2 separate regions of the Homo sapiens genome follow, and region 1 is linked to region 2. The links come from fine-mapping of genetic effects on gene expression. Tissue or cell type: whole blood. Region 2 holds a variant in brackets; the other region holds the start of a gene. All regions are shown on one strand. Distances are between the middles of the regions.

Region 1 (5,383 bases), 31 kb after region 2:
AAAAAAAGCTATAAGACAGGATGAGGTAATTAAAAATGTGACTGAAAGAGTGAAGGTAGAAATATGAGGATCAAAATACATAGGAGAAAGAATATTTTGTGAATATCTTTCATTTTAACATGCATTTAACTCTCCACCAGGTGGTGTTTTATTTCTAGAACCTTGTTAGGCTTGGTATCTAACATGAATTCAACACATGTTAAATTAATGGGTGAATGAATGAGAACAAAAGTAGAATGGGATTTAGACTGTAGTTAAGGAAAATGAATAAATACATTGAATAGCTATGGCACTATGTATTTAGATGATAGATTGCTGTTTGGATACTAAAAGTACAAAACCATCCCCTTGCCTCTACTCTTTCCCTATTTTAGTGTAAAGAAAAGTTTTGAAGGTTAGGTATGGATACTATATATTCTGGAAAATTTGAAACTTGCAATCCAATTAGTGGTGCCTAAGAACCTTCATTTACATGTGAAAGTAGAATCAAAAATAGAGCCAGAAACCTTTAGTAAAAACTAAAACACTTGTAGTACCTCCCCAGTACACTTCAGCAACAAAGGCCTTGTTTCTGCACTGGCAGTTTGTTCTTATCTTTGCCCCTGCTACCATTCCTGTGCCCCAGATATTTGCATAACTGGCTGCTGCTTATTTTTCAAATCTCAGATCAAATACCATCTTAGAGAGCTCTTTTCAGATCCCCAGTCTAAATAAGCTCACACTATCCTCAAGTCCCTCTATCACATCACCCTGCCTTAACTTTTCTCATGGCACTTCTGGCTGGCTGAAATCTCATTTGTCTTTAACAACTAACTTAAGATTCAACCGTCCTCTAGGATAGAAGTTCCTGTCTGTCTTGCTCACAAGTCTAGAGCAATGCACATAGTGTTTGTTGAATAAATGAATGAATCCTCACTGGCACTGATACGATTTTAAAAATGTTTAATTTGCAGGCCAGGCACGGTGGCTCACACCTGTAATCCCAGCACTCTGGGAGGCCAAGGCTGGCAGATCACTTGAACCCAGGAGTTCAACACCAGCCTGAGCAACATAGTGAGACCCCATTTCTTAAAAATAAATAAAATAAAAATGTTTAGTTTGCATTTCTTGGATTAAGAGTAAAGTTTTTACTTAAGAATGTCTGTGTTTCTTCATTTGATACCCTTTCCATTTCTTCTGTAATTAAAAAAAACCTTCACCCATTTTTCTATTGGGTGTTTTTTTTTTTCTTATCAATTTAAATGAACTTAAGAGGCCAGGCACGGTGGCTCACACCTGTAATCTCAGCACTTTGGGAAGCCAAGGTGGGTGGATCATCTGAGGTCGGGAGTTCAAGACTAGCCTGACCAACATGGAGAAGCCCTGGCTCTACTAAAAATACAAAATTAGCTGGGCATGGTGGCACATGCCTGTAATCCCAAGCTACTCAGGAGGCTGAGGCAGGAGAATCGCTTGAACCCGGGAGGCGGAGGTTGTGGTGAGCTGAGATCGCGCCATTGCACTCCAGCTTGGGCAACAAGAGCGAAACTGCGTCTCAAAAAAATAAAAATAAAAAATAAATGAACTTAAGATACTAACTCTGTCAGGTTTGGGACCAATATTTTTCCCAATGTGTTTTATTGATTTTGTCCCTGTTTCCTTGGGAAGAAGTTCTAAATTATCGAGCAGTCATGTATCAATATTTTCCATAGTGTTTTGTTTAGCTGCAGGCAGCATGGAGTAGCAAGCAGTCCAGCCTGCACTTTGAGGTTAGTTTACTTACAATTTGTGTGACTTCAGAAAAGTAGGCCAATTATTTAGCTTCCAAATCTCATGTTACTCAATTGCAGTTTTCATTTGTAAAATGGGTATACTGGCACCAAATACATCACAGAATCATGAGGATTAAAGGTAATGAAGGATATAAAATGTCCTTGGTAGTGTGCACATTAAGAATGCCCTAAATAAGCATATAAGCATGGTTAACAGCTAAGATGTATTTCGCTATTTTCATGTTGATAATTTGTCTTGGTAACTTTTTTTTTTTTTTTTAAGACAGGGTCTGTTTGTCACCCAGGCTGGAGTGCAGAGGCACGAACATGGCGCACTGCAGCCTGAGCCCGTGATCCTTCTGCCTCAGCCTCCTGTGTAGCTAGGACCACAGTCGCGTGCCACCACGCCCAGCTATTTTTTTTTTTACTTTTTGTAGCGGTGGAGGGGGTCTCATTTTTTTGCCCCAGGCTGGGGCTGGTCTCCAACTCCTGGGCACAAGCCATCCTCCCACCTCTGCCTCCCAAAATGTTTGGATTACAGGTGTGAGCCACTGCGCCCAGTCTTCTCAGTTCAGATATGGCATAAATTTTCTCAAATATTTAAATTATTTAATCCTTAAGGAATTTATTTTGGTGCACCAAACCACTTACCTTAAAGTCAGTTTTGCCTTTTCAGTAAGCGACTGGCCTCCAGAATGGCCTCGAAGCGCCAGCCTACTGGCAAGGAGCTGACATGCAGCCCGGAGTCAGCTCCCTGCGGATGGGCTGATCCTCGCGCAGGCTGTGCGGGGCGGGCGCGCACTGGACCCGCCCCATCCCCGCCCCCTCCCCGCCCCCTTGCTCTGCCAGTCCAGCCCTAGGTTCTCCTGAATCCCTGCGGTCCCAGCGTCGCTCCGGACGCTGCCAACCTGTTCTCCACCGTCGCTCGACTTCCACCTCTAAGACTCCCACGTGAGTGCGGGCGTCTCCCAGTTCCTGGGCCGGTGAGGCAGCAGCCCAGCAACCGTACCGCCCGGGGGAAAAGGAAAGTCCTGGCCTGGAGGATCCGAGCCCGCAGGCTCCGTGCGGCAGGTCCCGCCGGGCCCTGCTGCTGGAAGTGCTCCGTGGGCTTCGCGCAGCTGGGGATCGGCAGGTCGCGGGGAGGCTCCCGAGCTAGGTCGCGGCCTGGCTGGACCCAGGCACCGCCGACGCCTCCTGGAGGAGCCCGGGCTCGGGGCTCAGCTCCGGGCCGCAAGGCCCCGCCTGGGCCTGGCGCTCGCGCACCTGGGGCTGGGGATAGGCTGGGATCCGCCCTCCTTCCCTGGGCGGAGAGGGTCGGGCTTGTGGCCCAGAGAAGGGTGACAGGTCCCGAAATCGCTGCAGCACCACGCGGGGAGAGGGATAGGGTACCCACACCACGTCCGTGGTGAAGCCAATGCCCAGTTGAGCGGGGGGCGCGCGCTTCAGAGCACCCGAGAAGCTGGCAGATGGAGTGGGAAGAGGTGACTCTTGATTTCAGGGTAAACAAGGAGATTGTGAGAAGTAGTCTAGCAGCTCCCGTTTCTCCTCCAGCTTCAAGATTCTTCTGTCTAGTGTTTTGGGTTCCCTACACCAGGATTGTGGAGGAAGCGCACGGCCAGAACCCGTTGGGACCGAGCAGATCAACCATTTATGTTGCACTTAATGATCATCTGCACTTTTTGCATATCCTTAGTGTTGTCTTTGTGAGGCCACCTCTATAATGGATAATCAAATAGAGGGAAGGGCGGGATTGAATATTGTGACTTGATTTCAATGTCCCACAACAACTGTGCTAGACAGTTTTTATATGTTAGGTTATTTAACGCTCCCAAGCACTTATTAAAGTGATGTTACTCTGTTTCATTCTCCAGGAAACTCAGGTTGAATAATTCATCAAATTACACAACTGGTAAGTGGTGGCATTAGGGTTTGGAATTCAAGTCCGTATGGTTTTAGGGCACAGGCTTTATTGCTTAATGTAAAAGAACATTATTCTTTGGGATAAGCCAGATACCTAGGTTTCAAATCTATGCTATGAGGGCTGTTAGCTGTATGACCTTGGGCAGGATACTTCACCTTTTAGGGCCTGTTTCTGCATTTGTGAAATAGAGATAAAATGTCACAAGGTTGCTATGAGAATTAAATTAGATCCTACTTGTAAAACATTTAGCAAAGTGCTTGACACGTAGTTAGTGGTAAGCTATATATAGCCACATATATCCTGATGTCATTAATAAGGGTCAGCAAACTAGCTCTCTGTGTGTGCTGCCAGCCAGAGCCAAACAGAACTTGTGCAAGCCTAGAACATAGGTAGAGGGAAACAGCAAAGGATGGGAAACGAAAAGGGAACTGAAAACAGATGACATATATAATGGCAATTATAGTGACAACAATAGATGTCTCAGTCATTGATCTGTGGTACCCAGGGCCACTTTTTGCCTTTGCGAGAATTATTAATAGGTCAGTTCCTTTTGGCTGATGAATTGGAAAAATACATCCCACTCTGGGCTGAAAAATTTCAAACTCTGGGACTGGATCATTTTGAGACTCTAGATGTGAGGTGGAGCTGAATTTTAGGACCCCACAGACCAAAAGGTGCCTGGCACAAACCCCACAATGAAGTCTGCAGTTCTCTTTCAGGATTTCTTCTTTCAGGTCTAGTCCCTGAAGAATAGGAAGGGAGAGGAGGCTCCAGGACGGGAGAAACAGAAGGAGTGTTTGCCATTAAGGGTTGCATAATGACTGGACACCTCTTCTAATTTTACCTATAACTGTGAACACTTTATAGACAATGGTCTTCATTTTCATATAAGTTTATGGCAACCTATTATACATTTTAAAATATTTTATTTTCTATGCTCTTTATGATGGTATCACTGCTGCCCTGGGTATTTCCCTTGCAGCATCTGTTTCGGTACCTAGTTCATATTGTACTCCAACACCTATCAATTCTTTTATTTACTTATTTATTTATTTTATAATAAAGATGAGATCTTACTATGTTGCCCAGGCTGGTCTTGAACTCCTGGGCTCAAGTGATCCTCCTGCCTTGGCCTCCCAAAGTGCTGGGGTTACAGGTGTGAGCCACCACACCCGGCCCTATCAATTCTTGGTATGGCTTATCCATTGTTTCCTTTGCCTTCTTTATTTTTTGGTACTATCACTGGGCTTTTTTTCTTACTATTGTTAGAGTTTTCTCTTTTTTCCTCCCTTTCAAATGTTCTTTAGTCAGTGATTTATTATGCTAGAAAGTATGCCTGTTAGCAAAACTATAAAAGTTAATGTTAGATGTGAAAAATGATTATATGTCATTTGACCTTCAAAGATTCATAATGCCACCACTGCTCACCAAAGCATGATATTTCAGGTGGATCTTTTAGCAAGACTCAATGTCACTTCCATTGGTGGTACTCAGTGACCTGCAGGAGTCCTAACTAGAGCATTCCTTTACTGTACCCACCATTACCTTCAGCCTACAATCTAGCTTCCTTCCCACCAATATTTTCCCTTCTTGTTCTTGCTTGTGAGTGGGAATCGTATTGGGGTTTTTTTTGGAGAGACTATTTATTCTTTTAATATAACAGCTTAGCAGTATGCAATCATAACTTTTTAAAAGACATTAAAATTCATCA
Region 2 (5,383 bases):
TGTTGAATCTCCCTAATTTATATTTACTATGTGAATATAAACTACAGAATAAAGAAACTGTTCCTCCTTTTATCCATTATTTTGTTGAAAACAACTAAAGAAATCTTACAGATTAATGTTCATATTAAAAGGACTCTTTTTGAAAAAATTAAGATTTCCTAGTTTATGCTTTTCTATAAACCCACACTTTTGCTTTCAGTTTAGTAATGTGTGAGGTACACATTTTCAAATATTTGTAATGGTTAAGAGCATGGTCTCTGAAACCAGACTGCCAGGATTCAAGTCACAGCTTAATGACCTTGAACTGGTTGCAAGATCTATATTCTTACCACAACTGAGTTTTTTCTCTTTTATGGAAAAGTCATGTACTTAACTCATAAGGTTGTGGTAAAAAATAAATAAGTATCTTAACATGTTTATATGCAACTTATGCTCTAAGCAACCTTTCTCAATTGGGAGTTCCACTAAAAATTAAGCCCTACAAAAAAATTGTGTAAGTAACTATTTTTTTCTATTTCCTAAGAATGATACAGAAATACTGTAGTCCCATTCTAGATGCATAGGAAGGAAGTTAATTCATCACAATGGATGCCTGGGGGGATCAGGGTTTAATTAATTTTCCTTTTTTTTTTTTTTTTTTTTTGCCTTTGCCAAAATAAGGTTTTATTTTGAAAGTCATTTGAAAAACACTGAGGAAGGAAGGAGAAGACCTAAGACCCAATGGATGTAGGTTCCAAATTTGGATTCTTGCTGGCCCCACCAATGGTCTCTGTCAGGCCAAGAAGGTTCTGCTTTCTTTGGTAATTCCTATTTTTTTAGCTTCCTGGAGAAGAGATCTTTTCCCACAAGCCATCTTCATTTTTTTTGTAGAGTAGGGCTTTATTTCCAGGAAACAGTGTGTTAGTTGGAGCAGTATTTTTTTTTAAAAACATCAAGGTAGATCTAATATGTTCAACAAAGTGGGGTGGCTCGGCCAGACACGAAGTGGAAAGATTCTCTAGTATTTGCTTGTCATCTTGCTGCAAGCAGAAATCCACATGTGGAAATGGTGTCCAGGAGTACAGTCCTATACGAAGTTGTTCTGTCTTTGCATCGTAAATGCTAATCACTGGTCCTCCTGCTAAAGCTCACGCGGCACGCAGCTGCTCCTCTGGACCTCGATCTTGAAAGGAGGCTCTGTAGGCCAGGCACGGTGGCTTATGCCTGTAATCTCAGCATTTTGGGAGGCTGAGGTGGGCAGATCACTTGAGGTCAGGAGTTTGAGACCAGCCTGGCCAACATGGTGAAACGCTGTCTCTACTAAAAATATAAAAATTAGCCAGGTGTGGCAGTGGGCGCCTGTAATCCCAGCTACTTGGGAGGCTGAGGCAGGAGAATCACTTGAACCCTGGAAGCAGAGGCTGCAGTAAGCCGAGATCACACCACTGCACCCCAGCCTGGGCAACAGAGGAGACTCTGTCTCAAACAAAAAAAAGAAAGGAGGCTCTGTAAATCTTTGCAGTCTTAAGTTGACAGCAATGCCATATATTATTAGAAAGTGTTATTCGTTTTCTTCCTGGTCATTTAATTCTGTCACACATAATCATAGTATCACTAAGTGAATGTCATCTTCTTGCCTGTCAAATTCACTAAGAAGTTAATGAGTGAGTTTTTGTGACAACTGCCTCCCACATCACTGAAGCCTCCCACGAGGTATACTTCCAGGCTTCCACATTGAGCGCAGTCGGAAAAAGACTTTATGGAGTTCATGATCAAGGGGACCCCAGCTTTGGTGTCGGTTCCATCACAATGTGTCAAGCAGGTGGCGCCATAACCTGTGTGCAACAGGACCCCAATGTGACAAGTAGTGGCATTATCAGAACCCAAAATGGAGACGGAGCCATCCTTTGGGGAGGTCACTGCGAGCTCTCTTTGCTGAACATACAGAAGGCCCTGGGGTCCCAGTTGTTGAACAGACTGACCTCTGATACATCTGGCTGTTTCCTCCAGAGGCAGGTGGGCTCGGACGAGGTCCCCGGCGGACTGTGGCAGCCGCACTCGCTGCCCCTCGATGAGCAGTGGCATCGTGGAGGCAGCCGCCCAGGCCAGGGTTTAATTTTCTTATGAGAAGGGTTGAGAGGGGTACTTTCAAGCAAACTCTTTTATAATCAATCCTTCCTGCCACTGGTCTTTCAAAAATAATCCAAAGATGTTACCACTTTAGATATATAATGGAATTTGAAATGTAAGCAGTATAAATGATCTTTTTTATATGTAAATACTAAATATTGCCATTTAAAATATAAACATGTACATTTGAAAGCTTATATAAAACAT[T/A]GTTTTTTATAATCTATAACCTTCACTGTTTTTTAAAAAAATGGAAAGTATACATTTGTGTATTTTCTACAGTTCTTCATTATTCCCTTTGGAAGTTATGTCATGTATTTCTACATCCTGAGGCACAGAGAAATTAAGCAATTTATCTAATGCCACTGAGAAAATTACTGTATTTCCCTGAATCTAAAATATCAAAAATGACACACCATTAGTTTATGTGCCACTAAGAAAGAAAGTATCACTGCCAACTACAATGTAAGGTTCCAGCAATTACATCATGTAATCTCATTTCAAGGATTTTAAACTGTGAAACAGGTAAATTGTTACATTATAAAATGTCAGTTATTATGTATATATTACTATCCATACCTGAACAAGAAAAGCTAGGTCTCTGGACTCCCAGTCATTCTTTTTCACTAGTTGTTATATAAACTAGGAATTGACACTAAACCATAAAATTATGAAAAACTATTTAAATAGCAAATTCAGCACTATCCCTATGTATGTTTCCATCATTTTTCCTTCCTATAATCTCAAAAGAGAAATAAATATGCTGGTATTTTTGTGGTAGTTTTTTTTTTTTTTTTTGAGACAATGAAGTTCATCCATGTTAAGAAATATACAGACTCCTATGCAATTCTTTGCACCTAACAGCTTACTATAAATAATTAACTTTAGGGGAAAATATTTTTAATAAAACACACATACAATATACACACAGATATCAATCTTAAATAGAATTATTACTACAAGGAGTGGTGTGTCAATTGTGTTAAAGACTGTTACACTGGACCACGCTTTCCATATTCAGGAACTTGTGTCAATGCTCCCCTCCCACAGAAACTGGGCTTGCCCTTGTGACTTGTTTAGATTAACAGGATATTACCAAGTGTGATGCAAGCAGAGGCTTGCTAGAACTTTGTACATTGGATCTTTTCCCATGGAACACTCATTCTTGGAAGCCGACTACCATGCTATAATGAAGGTTGAGCTAGACAACTAAGTGATAAAAAAACAAGTGAGGAGAAACTCTCATAGGTAAGAGGCCATCTTGGACACTGTAGTCTCAGCTGAGGGCCCAGGTGAATGCAGCTGTCTAAATGACCCCAGCTATACCAAGCAATGTAGAAGTGCCACTGCGCTCAGTTAACCCAAAGAATTGCAAGAAATAACAAACTGTCGGCTGGGCACAGTGGCTCACACCTATAATCCCAGCACTTTGAAAGGCCGAGGCAGGTGGATCACCTGATGTCAGGAGTTTGAGACCAGCCTGGCCAAAATGGTGAAACCACACCTCTACTAAAAACACAAAAATTAGCCAGATGTGGTGGTGTGCCCCTGTAATCCCAGCTACTCGGGAGGCTGAGGCAGGAAAATTGCTTGAACCCGGGAGGCGGAGGTTGTAGTGAGCTGAGATAGCACCATTGCACTCTAGCCCGGATGACAAGAGCGAAACTCCGTCTCAAAAAAAAAAAAAAAAAGAAATAACAAACTGTCATGGCTCTACTCCACTGTTATCATAGGTGGTTTGATATACAGCAATAGATAATGAAAACAAAAATCTATTCAGAAAAATATGACTTTTAAAATTCATGAATTTGAATAATTCATCAGTACCTCAAAATGCTCCTTGATGATATATGCATTTGCAATTTTAGCCTTGATGCCTTCATAATCTCCAACATCACTAAGGCAGATTGCATACCACTGAAAATTTAAAAAAGTGTAAGAACAATAATATTCTTAATATTCCATTCAATACAAGGTAAAACTGTATAATATTCTTCAATAGTCATTCTCATCCAACAAAAAGTTACTGAGCATAAAAACTGTATTAAATGTAATGGAATATATAAAGAGAAGTGGACATGGCCCTCTAGAAACTCAGGAATAGGGTTGGGCGCAGTGGCTCACGCCTGTAACAGTACTTTGGGAGGCCGAGGTGGATGGATCACCTGAGGTCAGGAGTTTGAGGCCCTGGCCAACATGGTGAAACCTTATCTCTACTAAAAATACAAAAATTAGCTGGGCATGGTAGCATGTGCCTGTAATCCCAGCTACTTGGGAGGCTGAGGCAGAAGAATCACTTGAACCCGGGAGATGGAGGTTGCAGTGAGCCAAGATCACACCACTGTACTCCAGCCTGGACAACAGAATGAGACTATGTCTAAAACAAAACAAAACAAAACAAAAAAACCTCAGGGATAGGACATGTTTATAGAGAACTATAATACAAGGTAGAAAGTGGTGAATTTTCCAAGAAAGTTACCAACACAATGAGATAATGGTTCATGTTTATGGTCTGAGTATCAATTTAGAAGAATATGTAATTGAATGTTTTATTTTCTCATTCTCTTTTCTTGGAGTTCCATCTACTCTCACATTGCATTGTTATAGTAAGAACAGCCACAATGTCAACTGTGACCTTGTCTCCACAGCCACAGTTGGACGGCAGACCCAAACTGAGATGACCTGAGTTTCTTTCCCAAGAAATGAATCTAAAATAGCCACACTTCAAAAACCCAGGTGCTGTGGAAAGTCACAAGACTTAGGATAAGGAGAAAAAAAATGTCTGCAATGAAAAAGATTTTCAGGTAACAGCAGAGTAGAGAAACAATTAATGAAGCCTCGGAGCAATCAAGCCAATTGTTTCCCAAGGTCCAACTTCACCCTGCCTTTGGGTTCTATGAAGTCCAACAATCCAGAAGGCTAATGACCACCTCGTCTCCCCGTACGATTTACTGAAAAACGTTGTTGTGAACCAACAAGAAATCCTGAAAGCAGCTAAGTTACATGTGAAAAGTCATTCTAGGTCTCAGTTGTCTAGCTGTTATATTCCTACCTCTAAATAAAACAGAAATATAACGTAAGGAAAATGAGAAAACATCTGTGAAGTGCTTATACTACTAAGAATATAGATATAGGTAATTCATGAAATTACTAAACTCCTGTTTAAAAATAAGCATTCACAAAAGTAATTTATCAAATACATATGAAGTTAGACCAAATGTTTACAAAAACAAAGACTTCTTTTTGAAAAACTTATAAAAATAACTATCTTCCCTAC

The links.
Region 1: CPNE3 starts here. The variant in region 2 is fine-mapped to the expression of CPNE3 in whole blood (INTERVAL, PIP 0.97).

What each region holds. Positions count from the first base shown.
Region 1 is chr8:86,511,840-86,517,222 of GRCh38, forward strand. CPNE3 (copine 3) reads left to right here and starts at 2,596. Exons shown (of 17, transcript NM_003909.5): 1 at 2,596-2,702; 2 at 3,623-3,660. It also overlaps a transcript of RMDN1 not described here. RefSeq lists silencers at 2,565-2,644, 2,765-3,104.
Region 2 is chr8:86,480,939-86,486,321 of GRCh38, forward strand. RMDN1 (regulator of microtubule dynamics 1) reads right to left here. Exons shown (of 10, transcript NM_016033.3): 5 at 3,934-4,023. It also overlaps the pseudogene NTAN1P2. Among named protein-coding and RNA genes, the nearest start is that of RMDN1, 25 kb to the right of the region's middle. The variant T/A (reference allele first, on the strand shown) is at 2,317.